Linked DNA regions of Homo sapiens: region 1 is linked to region 2. A link means that fine-mapping ties the variant in region 2 to the plasma level of a protein whose gene starts in the linked region. Region 2 holds a variant in brackets. A gene starts in the other region. All regions are shown on their reverse strands.

Region 1 (5,330 bases), not on the chromosome of region 2:
GGGCTGGGGCTGCCGGATGGGGGGAGAGACAATGGTTGGCCTGTCCACTGCGCAGCCCCTGCTGGGAGCCTCAGGACTGCGGCATCCGCAGGGACCCCCTCCAGTTGCGCAGGCAGAGCCTCTTCCACGCCCCCCAACAGTAGGCTCCAGGAGGCAGATGACCCAGGCAGGGGGAGGGCCTGGTGGCTTTCATCGCCTTCCCCCACCCCAGCCACACCCAGGAGCAGCGGGGAGGAAGTCGGGAAAATCCTGCAGGGGCCTGGCAAAGTGCCCTGGCCGCTGTGGAGGAGACTGGGCCGGCGGGGGAGCCCAGCTGTAGCCCGCACCGGCCAGTCTGAAAGAAGCTGCCACCTTCTCCACCTCCGTGGAGGGAAATGAGTGGATTTCTGGTCCCAGGAGATGGTTTTGGGGGTACACGGGCGCCGGCTCTGGGTCCCCCGAGCCCCTACTAGGAGAAGATGGTGGGGGTCCCAGCGTACCTACCCCGGGGGCTCCCAGAAGCACCTGAAGGAGAAACCAGGGAAACTTCCCCTCCCCGGGGTGGGGAGCCCCGGTTCCCGCAGGAGCGCGATGGGGCACCGGCCCTGCCCCCAAGCACACGAGGCCCGGTGACGGCCCCGCCCACCTCTCTGCTCCTGCACGCCCCCCCCCCGCACCACTGCGGCACCCCCCACCTGGCTCCCGGGGTTGGGAGCTCAGGCTGTGCGCCCCTTTTTCTCTCCTGACCAACCCCTCTCGCCCCGGGAAAGGCCTCTGGGGAGGGGAACAAGCGGATCCCAGGCCCAGCCCCCGCTCCCCGCCCGGGCAAAGGCCCCCCCTCCCCAGGCCCCTCTCCTTCTCGGCCGGTAGGGAGGGCGCGCGGCAGCCGCAGTCCGTGGGCGAGGTGCACTTGTCTCCGCGAGGAGGGAGGCGGCGGCGGGCGGAGGACGGCGGCGGCGCAGCAACTTTCCCCGGCGCCCGCGAGTTTCCCGGGACCCGGCGACCCCCCCTCCCGGGGCTTGGCGGTCGCCAAGGGAGCCGGAGCGGGGGCTGCGGAGCGACCGGGGCTGGTTCCCACGGCCTGGGGCGGGGGTCCCGGCGGGGCGGCAGGCGTCGCGAGGGGAGGCCGGGGTCCGGGTGGGCGCACCTTGCAGGAGTACGTGTGCTGCACCGGGTCCACGTTGAGGATCTCCTCCACCGTCCCGGTGAGCACCACGTTCGCCTCCTCCTCGCGCCGCTCCAGCGCGCGCTCCGGGCATGTCCCGCCGGCTCCGGGCAGGACGCACGCGGCCACCACAAGGAGCGGCAGCAGCGGCCGCAGCGGGCCCGGGTGGGACCGGCCGGCCATGGCGCAGGCGAGAGGCGGCGGAGGAGCGCGCGGGCCGCGCCGGGGACGGGACTGGACAGGACGGGACGCAGCTCCGGAGGCGGCGGAGCGCGGGCGGGCGGGCGGGGGGGGGCGGGGCCAGGGCGGCGCCCCTCCCCCTCTCTCCTCCCCGCCCCCCTACCCCCTCCCCGCGCCCTCCTCCTCCCCCTCCTCCTTCCTTCCCCCTCCCGCCCCCTCCCTCCTCCCTCCCCCGGCCCGCCCGGAGGCCGGCGACCCGCGCCGCCGCGAACAAAGCCCCGGGACGCAGCGCCCGGCGCGGCCGTGGGGCGGGAAAGGGGCGGCCCGGGAGGGGGCGGGGAGAGGAGAGTGGGGGGCGGGTCTGGATCCCGCAGGCGCCCCTCCCCCGCCGCGGCCCCCCGGAAGTGCGGCTGCACCCGAGTTAATGCCTAATCTGGAGGAGACGTGACGGGACTGCCGAGGGGCTCCGGGCGGCGCGGAGCCGGGCGGCAGGGCTCGAAGGCCGCCGGGAGGGGCCCCAGACCCGGCCCCGATCCCGCTCCGCAGGCCGCGCCCCTCCCCCGCGGGGCCGGACACCGAGGCTCGGCCGGGCCGGACCCCCCGGGAGCTGCGGCGCGGAGGCGGGTCCCGGTGCCGGGGCGGGCGCTGATTGGCCAGCACGGGGCGCGGCCCCGCCCCTCCCGGCCCCGCCCCCCCAGGCCCCGCCGCGGGGAGGTTCGCGCCCCCTTCCGTCCCGCGGCTGCAAGCGCGGGTCCCGCCACGCCCCTTCCCAGCTCTGGGCCGGGCGCCTCTGCAGCTTGGCCTGGCTGGGTGCAGGGGGAAACTGAGGGCTGGAGGACCCAAGTGGGAGCCTGGCCTAGCTGAAGATTGAAAGGAGGGAGCGGAGGCCCCCTTTGTCCCTTCAGAACTGTGTCTAGGCTGGGCGTGGTGACTCACGCCTGTCATCCCAGCACTCTGGGAGGCGGAGGCAGCAAGATCTCTTGACACCGGGTGTTCGAGACTAGCCTGGGCAAAATAGCAAGACCCCATCTCTCAAAAAAATTAAAAATTAGCTGGATGGGCCGGGCGCAGTGGCTCACGCCTGTAATCCCAGCACTTTGGGAGGCTGAGGCAGGTGGATCACGGGAGGTCAGGAGTTCGAGACCAGCCTGGCCAACATGGTGAAACCCCGTCTCTACTAAAAATACAAAAATTGGCCGGTGTGGTGGCAGGCGCCTGTAGTCCTAGCTACTTGGGAGGCTGAGGCAGGAGAATCGCTTGAACCCAGGAGGCGGAGGTTGCAGTGAGCTGAGATGGTGCTGAGAGGTGACAGCGTGCTGGCAGTCCTCACAGCCCTCTCTCGGTCTTCACGCCTCCTCTGCCTGGGCTCCCACTTTGGTGGCACTTGAGGAGCCCTTCAGCCCACCGCTGCACTGTGGGAGCCCCTTTCTGGGCTGGCCAAGGCGGGAGCCGGCTCCCTCAGCTTGCAGGGAGGTGTGGAGGGAGAGGCATGAGCGGGAACCGGGGCTGCGCGCGGCTCTTGCGGGCCAGCTGGAGTTCCGAGTGGGCGTGGGCTTGGTGGGCCCCGCACTTGGAGCAGCCGGCCGGCCCTGCCGGCCCGGAGCAATGAGGGGCTTAGCACCCGGGCCAGCGGCTGCGGAGGGTGTAGTGGGTCCCCCAGCAGTGCCAGCCCACTGGCGCTGCACTCGATTACTCGCCAGGCCTTAGCTGCCTTCCGGCGGGGCAGAGCTGGGGACCTGCAGCCCACCATGCCTGAGCCTCCCACCCCCTCCGTGGGCTCCTGTGCGGCCCAAGCCTCCCCGATGAGCGCTGCCCCCTGCTCCACCGTGCCTAGTCCCATGACCACCCAAGGGCTGAGGAGTGCGGGTGCACAGCGCAGGACTGGCAGGCAGCTCCACTTGCAGCCCCAGTGCGGGATCCACTGGGTGAAGCCAGCTGGGCTCCTGAGTGGTGGAGACGTGGAGAACCTTTATGTCTAGCTCAGGGATTGTAAATACACCAATCAGCACCCTGTGTCTAGCTCAGAGTCTGTGAATGCACCAATAGACAGACACTCTGTATCTAGCTACTCTGGTGGGGCCTTGGAGAACCTTTATGTCTAGCTCAGGGATTGTAAATACACCAATCGGCACTCTGTATCTAGCTCAAGGTTTGTAAATACACCAATCAGCACCCTGTGTCTAGCTCAGGGTTTGTGAATGCGCCAGTGGACACTCTGTATCTAGCTACTCTGGTGAGACCTTGGAGAACATTTATGTCTAGCTCAGGGATTGTAAATACACCAATCGGCACTCTGTATCTAGCTCAAGGTTTGTAAATACACCAATCAGCGCCCTGTGTCTAGCTCAGGGTTTGTGAATGTGCCAGTGGACTCTGTATCTAGCTACTCTGGTGGGGCCTTGGAGAACCTTTGTGTGGATACTCTGTATCTAACTAATCTGGTGGGGACGTGGAGAACCTTTGTGTCTAGCTCAGGGATTGTAAATGCACCAATCAGCGCCCTGTCAAAACAGACCACTAGGCTCTACCCATCAGCAGGATGTGGGTGGGGCCAGATAAGAGAATAAAAGCAGGCTGCCGGTGCTAGCAGTGGCAACCCGGTCAGGTCCCCTTCCACACAGTGGAGGCTTTGTTCTTTCGCTCTTTGCAATAAATCTTGCTACTGCTCACTTTTTGGGTTCACACTGCTTTTATGAGCTGTAACACTCACCGCCAAGGTCTGCAGCTTCACTCCTGAAACCAGCGAGACCACGAGCCCACCGGGAGGAACAAAAAATCCAGACGCGCTGCCTTAAGAGCTGTAACACTCGCCGCCAAGGTCTGCAGCTTCACTCCTGAGCCAGCGAGACCACGAACCCACCAGAAGGAAGAAACTCCGAACATATCCGAACATCAGAAGGAACGAACTGAAGACGCGCCGACTTAAGAGCTGTAACACTCACCGCGAGGGTCCGTGGCTTCATTCTTGAAGTCAGTGAGACCAAGAACCCACCAATTCTGGACACAGTGCAACTGCACTCCAGCCTGGGTGACAGAGCGAGACTGTTTCAAAAAAAAAAAATTAGTCGACGGGCCGGGCGTGGTGGCTCAGGCCTGTAATCCCAGCACTTTGGGAGGCCGAGGTGGGCGGATCACTTGAGGTCAGTAGTTCGAGACCAGCCTGGCCAACATGGTGAAACTCTGTCTCTACTATAAATACAGACAGGGCACGGTAACTCACGCTTGTGATCCCAGCACTTTGGGCAGCCAAGGGGGGAGTGGATCACAAGGTCAGGAGTTCGGGACCAGCCTGACCAACATGGTGAAACTGCCTCTACTAAAAAATTAGCCGGGTGACACGCACCTGTAATCCCAGCCAGTCAGGAGGCTGAGGCAGGAGAATCGCTTGAACTCAGGAGGTGGAGCTTGCAGTGAGCCGAGATCACACCACTGCACTCCAGCCTGGGCGACAGAGCGAAACTCCATCTCAAAGAAACACAAAACAAAACAAATACAAAATTAGCCAGGTGTGGTGACACGCACCTGTAATCCCAGCTCCTCGGGAGGCTGAGGCGGGAGGATCACTTGAGTGTGGGAGGTGGAGGCTGCGGTGAGCGGTGATTGTGCCACTGCACTCCAGCCTAGCTGAGAGTATGACCCTGGGAAAAGTAAGTAATTTTTTTAAAAAAAGGACTGGGTCAGTCAGGCCCAGTGGTTCACACCTGTAATCCCAGCATTTTGGGAGCCCGAGGCAGGCGGACCACTTGAGGCCAGGAGTTCAAGACCAGCCTGGCCAACATGATGAAACCCCATCTCTACTAAAAATACAAAAATTAGGCCGGGTGCGGGGGCTCACACTTGTAACCCTAGCACTTTGGAAGGCTGAAGCGGGCGGATCATGAGGTCAGGAATTCGAGACTAGCCTGGCCAATACAGTGAAACGCTGTCTCTACTAAAAACACAAAAAAAAGTTAGCTGGGTGAGGTGGCGGGCACCATTAATCCCAACTACTTGGGAGGCTGAGGCA
Region 2 (5,377 bases):
ATTGTGGGTTATAACCGTATAAGGTAAAGTTTTTATTTATTTCCAGTTAAGTTGCCATTTAGGGACACTTGTACGATTGCAAAATGCCTTCTGAGGATATAATCTATTTGATTTGTTACCATTTCTTTATAGGAATAGAGATAACATAAAGGAGTCTCCGAAGAGGTATTAGAGACTTTAGTACTGGCCAACCATTTAGCATGTTTCTAATTATCCTTTTTGTCTCCTCTGTACTTAGACCATTTAACTAATTTAGAATCCTCATTGAAACATCCTCTGCTACGAACCATTTGTGGAAAGACTTACTCTATACAATCCATTTTGTATTATATAATGAAAGGGCTGAGCAGAAGGGATTTGTTAGGCATAATTTATATCTACTGCACAGTCAAACCTTAATTATTTAGTGGCTACCTGTCCTGTTTGGGGATTATACAAGCATTTGGCCTTTACTTTGTCTCACTGTGGCTATTTAGCTATTTCACTAATCACTGATACATCTGCCAAGAGTAGTTTGGAGATAGAGGAAAGCAGGGGATCATGTTGTCCATCATTTTGCTATTTATTAGAGGATTTAATAAAATCTTTGAGGAAAGAGGGGACTTAAGTGCCTGTGTAAAGTGACTGTCAGTGGATTTTAATGTTTCCGTTAGCTGTATTAGTCTATATATTAGTCTCTCTCTCCCAAGGACAATTAAAAGTTGTCTGTATATGTTTTTAAAACCTTAAAATACGGATAAGAACATGGTTATGCATATTAGCATTTTAAATATATTATCCTACAAAAAAGTTATATCAAATTGCACTCCCATAAATGGTATGTGAGAGTGCCTTTCCCCTTTAAATTTCTCCAAACAACACTGTAGCCCAGTGCAATGGCTCACGCCTGTAGTGGCAACACTTTGGGAGGCCAGGAGTTTGAGACCAGTCTGGCCAACATAGGGAGACCAGTGTACACACACACACACACACACACACAAAAGAAATAGCTGAATGTGATGGTGTGTGCCTGTGGTCCCAGCTACTTGAGAGGCTGACGTGGGAGGATTGTTTGAGCCCAAGAGGCTGAGGCTGCAGTGAGCCATGATCACCCCACTGCGCTCCAGCCTGGGCAACAGAACAAGACTTTGTCTCACAAACAAAAACAAAAAAAACCAACACTGAATTTTTTTCCTCAACAGAGTAGGTGAAAAATTATCTTTAACTGTTGTGCATTTTATCTTTCAGATACATAAATGCCCAAAGACATTTTCATTTCAAGAAATAATAAAATCCACAGAGAAGTTTAAGGGGGAAGGTTAAAGGGAGAGGGATATTAAATAAGGAAAATTATTTTTAATATAATAAAATGTTTCCTTTAAATTGCATTTTATATTAAAACTTCTTTCAGAAGTAGAAAAATCAAATGAAGAATTTTAATTTCACATTACAAATATTTAATATTAACATATAACCTGATATTGCTATATTGTTACTTCAATATAAAATACCACTATGAGCTAATCCAGCAAAATCATTATGTAAACTAACTGGAAAATTAGATAAGGGGTAGCATCTCCTGTTATAAAATGAGTGAAAGGAATATATCAAAAGGAATATATTAAAAATTTACTTACTTTCATACTATGACCAGCATTTTCTCTTGCTATCCAAACCCCTTTTTGATTAATCATTTCCTTCTTATAATCATTTATAATAGAGAATATTTGGAAATGGTCAAAATCTTCAACAATGGGGGAGTATAATTAAATATTGTGCAGCCAAAATGGAAATTTCAAAGAAATGTTAATGGCAAGGAAAATACTCTGCAATGACATAATGAGTGAAAAAGTCAGAGAACAGAACTGAAAATTCCATGTGACTTCCATTTAGTACTCCCATCTCCCAAAGGTAGAGAGCAAGAGAAGAGAAGGGAGAGGAAGGGAGAGGAAAGAAAGAACATATATAAGTGTTAACAATAGTTATCTCTGGACTATGACATATGAGAATTTTAATTTTCTAAGCTTTATTTCTGATGTTTTTATTAACAAAATTTACGCTACATTCAATGTGTATTTTTAATGTCTGTATTCATGCACCTATCAGCATACACTACAGCAATTTCATCATGTCACATCTTCCATAAAAATGGGATTTCCTTGGGGAAGGGTCTTGTTTATTTGTATTTCCAGCACATAGTGCTTAACAAATCCTTCTTAAACGCAAAACCTCAAGAAACATTGAAAATAACCTCACAATACAATGAACTTCCAACTATCAGGGTACTCATCCCCTAGATTTTCCAAGTATTAACACTTGTCAGATTTATTATCTGTTTATCATTGCTGATGTCATGACACATCACCTCTCGAGAACAAAAATACTATTCTACATAAATATAATATTGTCACAAGCTATACAGTTAATACTATGTAATACTATTATGTTATGTTCAAATGTCCCCAATTGTCTAAATAATAGCATTGACATTTATAGCTTTTTAAAAAAAAATCCAGGGCAAAACAAGGACCAGACAGGCATTGCATTTAGATCATGAGTTTTTCTAGCTTTTATTCTAGGAGTGTTCTGTTTTTGTTCTTGTTACTTTTCTTTGACTTCCATGAGACTGACATTTTTGAAACATTTGGGCCAGGTGTTTGATAGAATGTCCCACAGTTTCAGTTTGTCTGATTGTTTCCTCATGATTAGAATCAGTTGAAATATTTTTGCCAAAAATATTACAATGATGATATAATGTCTTTCTCAAATGACATTACTGGGAAGTACATAATATCATTTTGTCCTATTTATATTCTTATTTTCCTTTAAAAAGTTCATTTATTTATTTTAATTGACAAATAAAAATTGTGTGGTTATGGTATACAACATGATGTTTTGGTATATGCATACATTGTGAAATGGAAAATTCAAGCTATTTAGCATATGAATTACCTCACATACTTATTTTCTTGTGGTGAGAACACAAAATTTACTCTCTTAGCAAATTTCTTATTTATTTATTTATTTATTTATTTTTGAGACGGAATCTTGCTCTGTTGCCCAAGCTGGAGTGCAGTGGTGC[A/G]ATCTCAGCTCACTGCAAACTCCACCTCCTGGGTTCAAGCAATTCTCCTGCCTCAGCCTCCCAAGTAGCTGGGATTACAGGCATGCACCACCATGCCTGGCTAATTTTTGTATTTTTAGTAGAGAGGGGTTTCACCATGTTGGCCAGGCTGGTCTCGAACTCCTGACCTCAAATGATCTGCCCACCTTGGCCTTCCAAAGGACTGGGATTACAGGTGTGAGCCACCGCTCCCGGCAACACATTTCAAATACACAATATATTGTTATTAACTGCAGTCACCATGATGTGCTATTTTTTATAGGTCTCTTGAATTTATTCCTCCTGTCTAACTGAAATTTTGTGTCCTTTGATCAACATCTCCCTAGTTCCCTTATTCCCAAGTCTGGTAATCACCATTTTACACCTTGTTCTGATGAGGTTTCACTTTTTCATATTTCACAGATGGAATCATATGGCATTTATCTTTCTGAACCTGAATTATTTCACCTAACTTATGTCCTCCAGGTTCATCCATGTTGTCACCAATGACATATATATTTTTTTCTAATATAAGTATTTCAAGTGCTATAATTCCTTTCGACTACCATCATAACTGTATTCTACAAATTTGCATAAGTAAATTCATTTTCATTCAGTCCTAAATATCAGCTTCCATTGTGGTTACCTTTTGAAATCATAAATTATATAGATATGTGTTTTGACATCTCAAACAAAAGTTTCCCCTTTGTTTTTATCACCCAGATCCTCTGATAATATTTCTGAGCCATTTGAGAATAAGTTGCAGATATTATACCATGTTATCTCTTAATATTTCAGTGTTTGTTTCGTGTATACAAGGACAATCTACTACAAAATCACACTAGGACAAGGAAATTAGCATTGTAAATTACCATCTAATCCATAGGCCCCTTTCAAATTTTACCAATCGTCCAGTGATGTCCATCAAAGGTCCTAGATCTAATCCAGGATCACATGACACATTTAGTTGACATGCTTTTTTAGATCCCTTCAGTCTGAAACATTTCCTGTCTTTCTCTTTCATGCTCTTGTTACTTTTGAAGAGTTACTTTGTAGAAAGTCCCCCAAATTGGTTTTGTCTGATTTCTCATGATTTGTGCATTTTTGACAGAAATACCACATAAATGATGTGGTCTCCTCAGTGCATCATATCAAGACCCACAAGGTATCAATTTGTCCTTTATCTGATGATGTTAACTTTGAAAACTTGGTTAAGATGGTGTCTTCCAGTTTTCTCTACTTGAAAATTGGTTAAATATGTTGTCATTATTAATTAATAAGTAATTAACAAAACACTTTGAGGCTATGTGAATATCCTATTCCTCATGATACTTCACTGATATGATTTGGCTATGTCCCCACCCAAATCTCATCTTGAATTGTAGCTCCTATAATCTCCATGTGTTGCAGGAGGGACCTGGTGGGAGGTAATTAAGCCATGGGGGCAGTTTTTCCTGTGCTGTTCTCATGATAGTGAATAAGTCTCATGAGATCTGATAGTTTTATAAAGGGGAGTTCTCCTGTGCATAGTCTTTTACCTGCCACCATGTAAGACATGCCTTTGCTCCTCCTTTGCTTTCCACCATGATTGTCAGGCCTCCCCAGCCATGTGGAACTGTGTGTCAATTAAACCTCTTTCCTTTATAAATTACCCAGTCTTGGGTATGTCTTTATTAGCAGCATGAGAACAGACTAATACATTCACCCATCAGTTTTAGCATTTTTTTTATTATTCTTGCCTGAAGATGGACTGTGACATTCGACAACACTGTTGAGATTATGCTTTGTGCCAGTGAACCTAATTACTTAGTTAACATCATTATAGATTCATGGCTTTCTACTTTACTCAAAGAGTCTTCATCCATTACCATCATTATTTATTTGTTGGTTTGTTTTGGACCTCACTTCCTGGTGCCATCTCTTCTAGTTTCCTCTTCTGCCTCAAGCACATCTCCACTATTCTAGCTGTTGGAGAGCAGCATGAGGCCTCTGTGCTTAAGAGGCTGAAGCCTGCCAGAGCTGCTTGAGGACAGCTGTGGTTTGTCCTTTTAGGGTTATCTGTCCTACCCTGTCATACACCAGCTACTCAGGGAAACTGAAGTCAGATTTCACCTCCTTTATTTTGCTGCTCGAATTGTCTGACCCTTGGCCAGTGAAGCCCCTTCCAACTGGTTTCTGTGTCCTTTTGATATGTCCCCACTATTCTTTGCTCTTTCCTTATTCTTTAGCCCAACAAGGCATGCCTGCTGTATCCCTGGGATCAACCATTTCTCCAAGGACCCCCTTGGAGAAGAACTC

Direction of the effects. Alleles are on the strand shown, and positions count from the first base shown. The strength of an association depends on the size of the effect and on how common the allele is.
For the plasma level of the protein whose gene starts at base 1,380 in region 1, allele A in region 2 goes with a higher level than allele G (weak association).

The links. A credible set is the group of variants that fine-mapping cannot tell apart. PIP is the posterior inclusion probability: the model's chance that the variant is causal. Protein levels are from antibody-based Olink assays in UK Biobank. Linkage for the fine-mapping came from a reference panel and not from the study's own genotypes, which makes the PIPs less certain.
Region 1: it holds the start of AGRN, and the variant in region 2 is the best candidate, but not a certain one, in a credible set for the plasma level of the AGRN protein (UK Biobank, PIP 0.86).

What each region holds. Positions count from the first base shown.
Region 1 is chr1:1,016,170-1,021,499 of GRCh38, reverse strand. It overlaps AGRN (agrin), which reads right to left and starts at 1,380. Exons shown (of 36, transcript NM_198576.4): 1 at 1,127-1,380. The coding sequence starts at 1,327. RefSeq lists an enhancer at 1-108 and a silencer at 1,617-2,066.
Region 2 is chr4:118,376,508-118,381,884 of GRCh38, reverse strand. No RefSeq gene overlaps it. Among named protein-coding and RNA genes, the nearest start is that of PRSS12, 26 kb to the right of the region's middle. The variant A/G (reference allele first, on the strand shown) is at 3,062.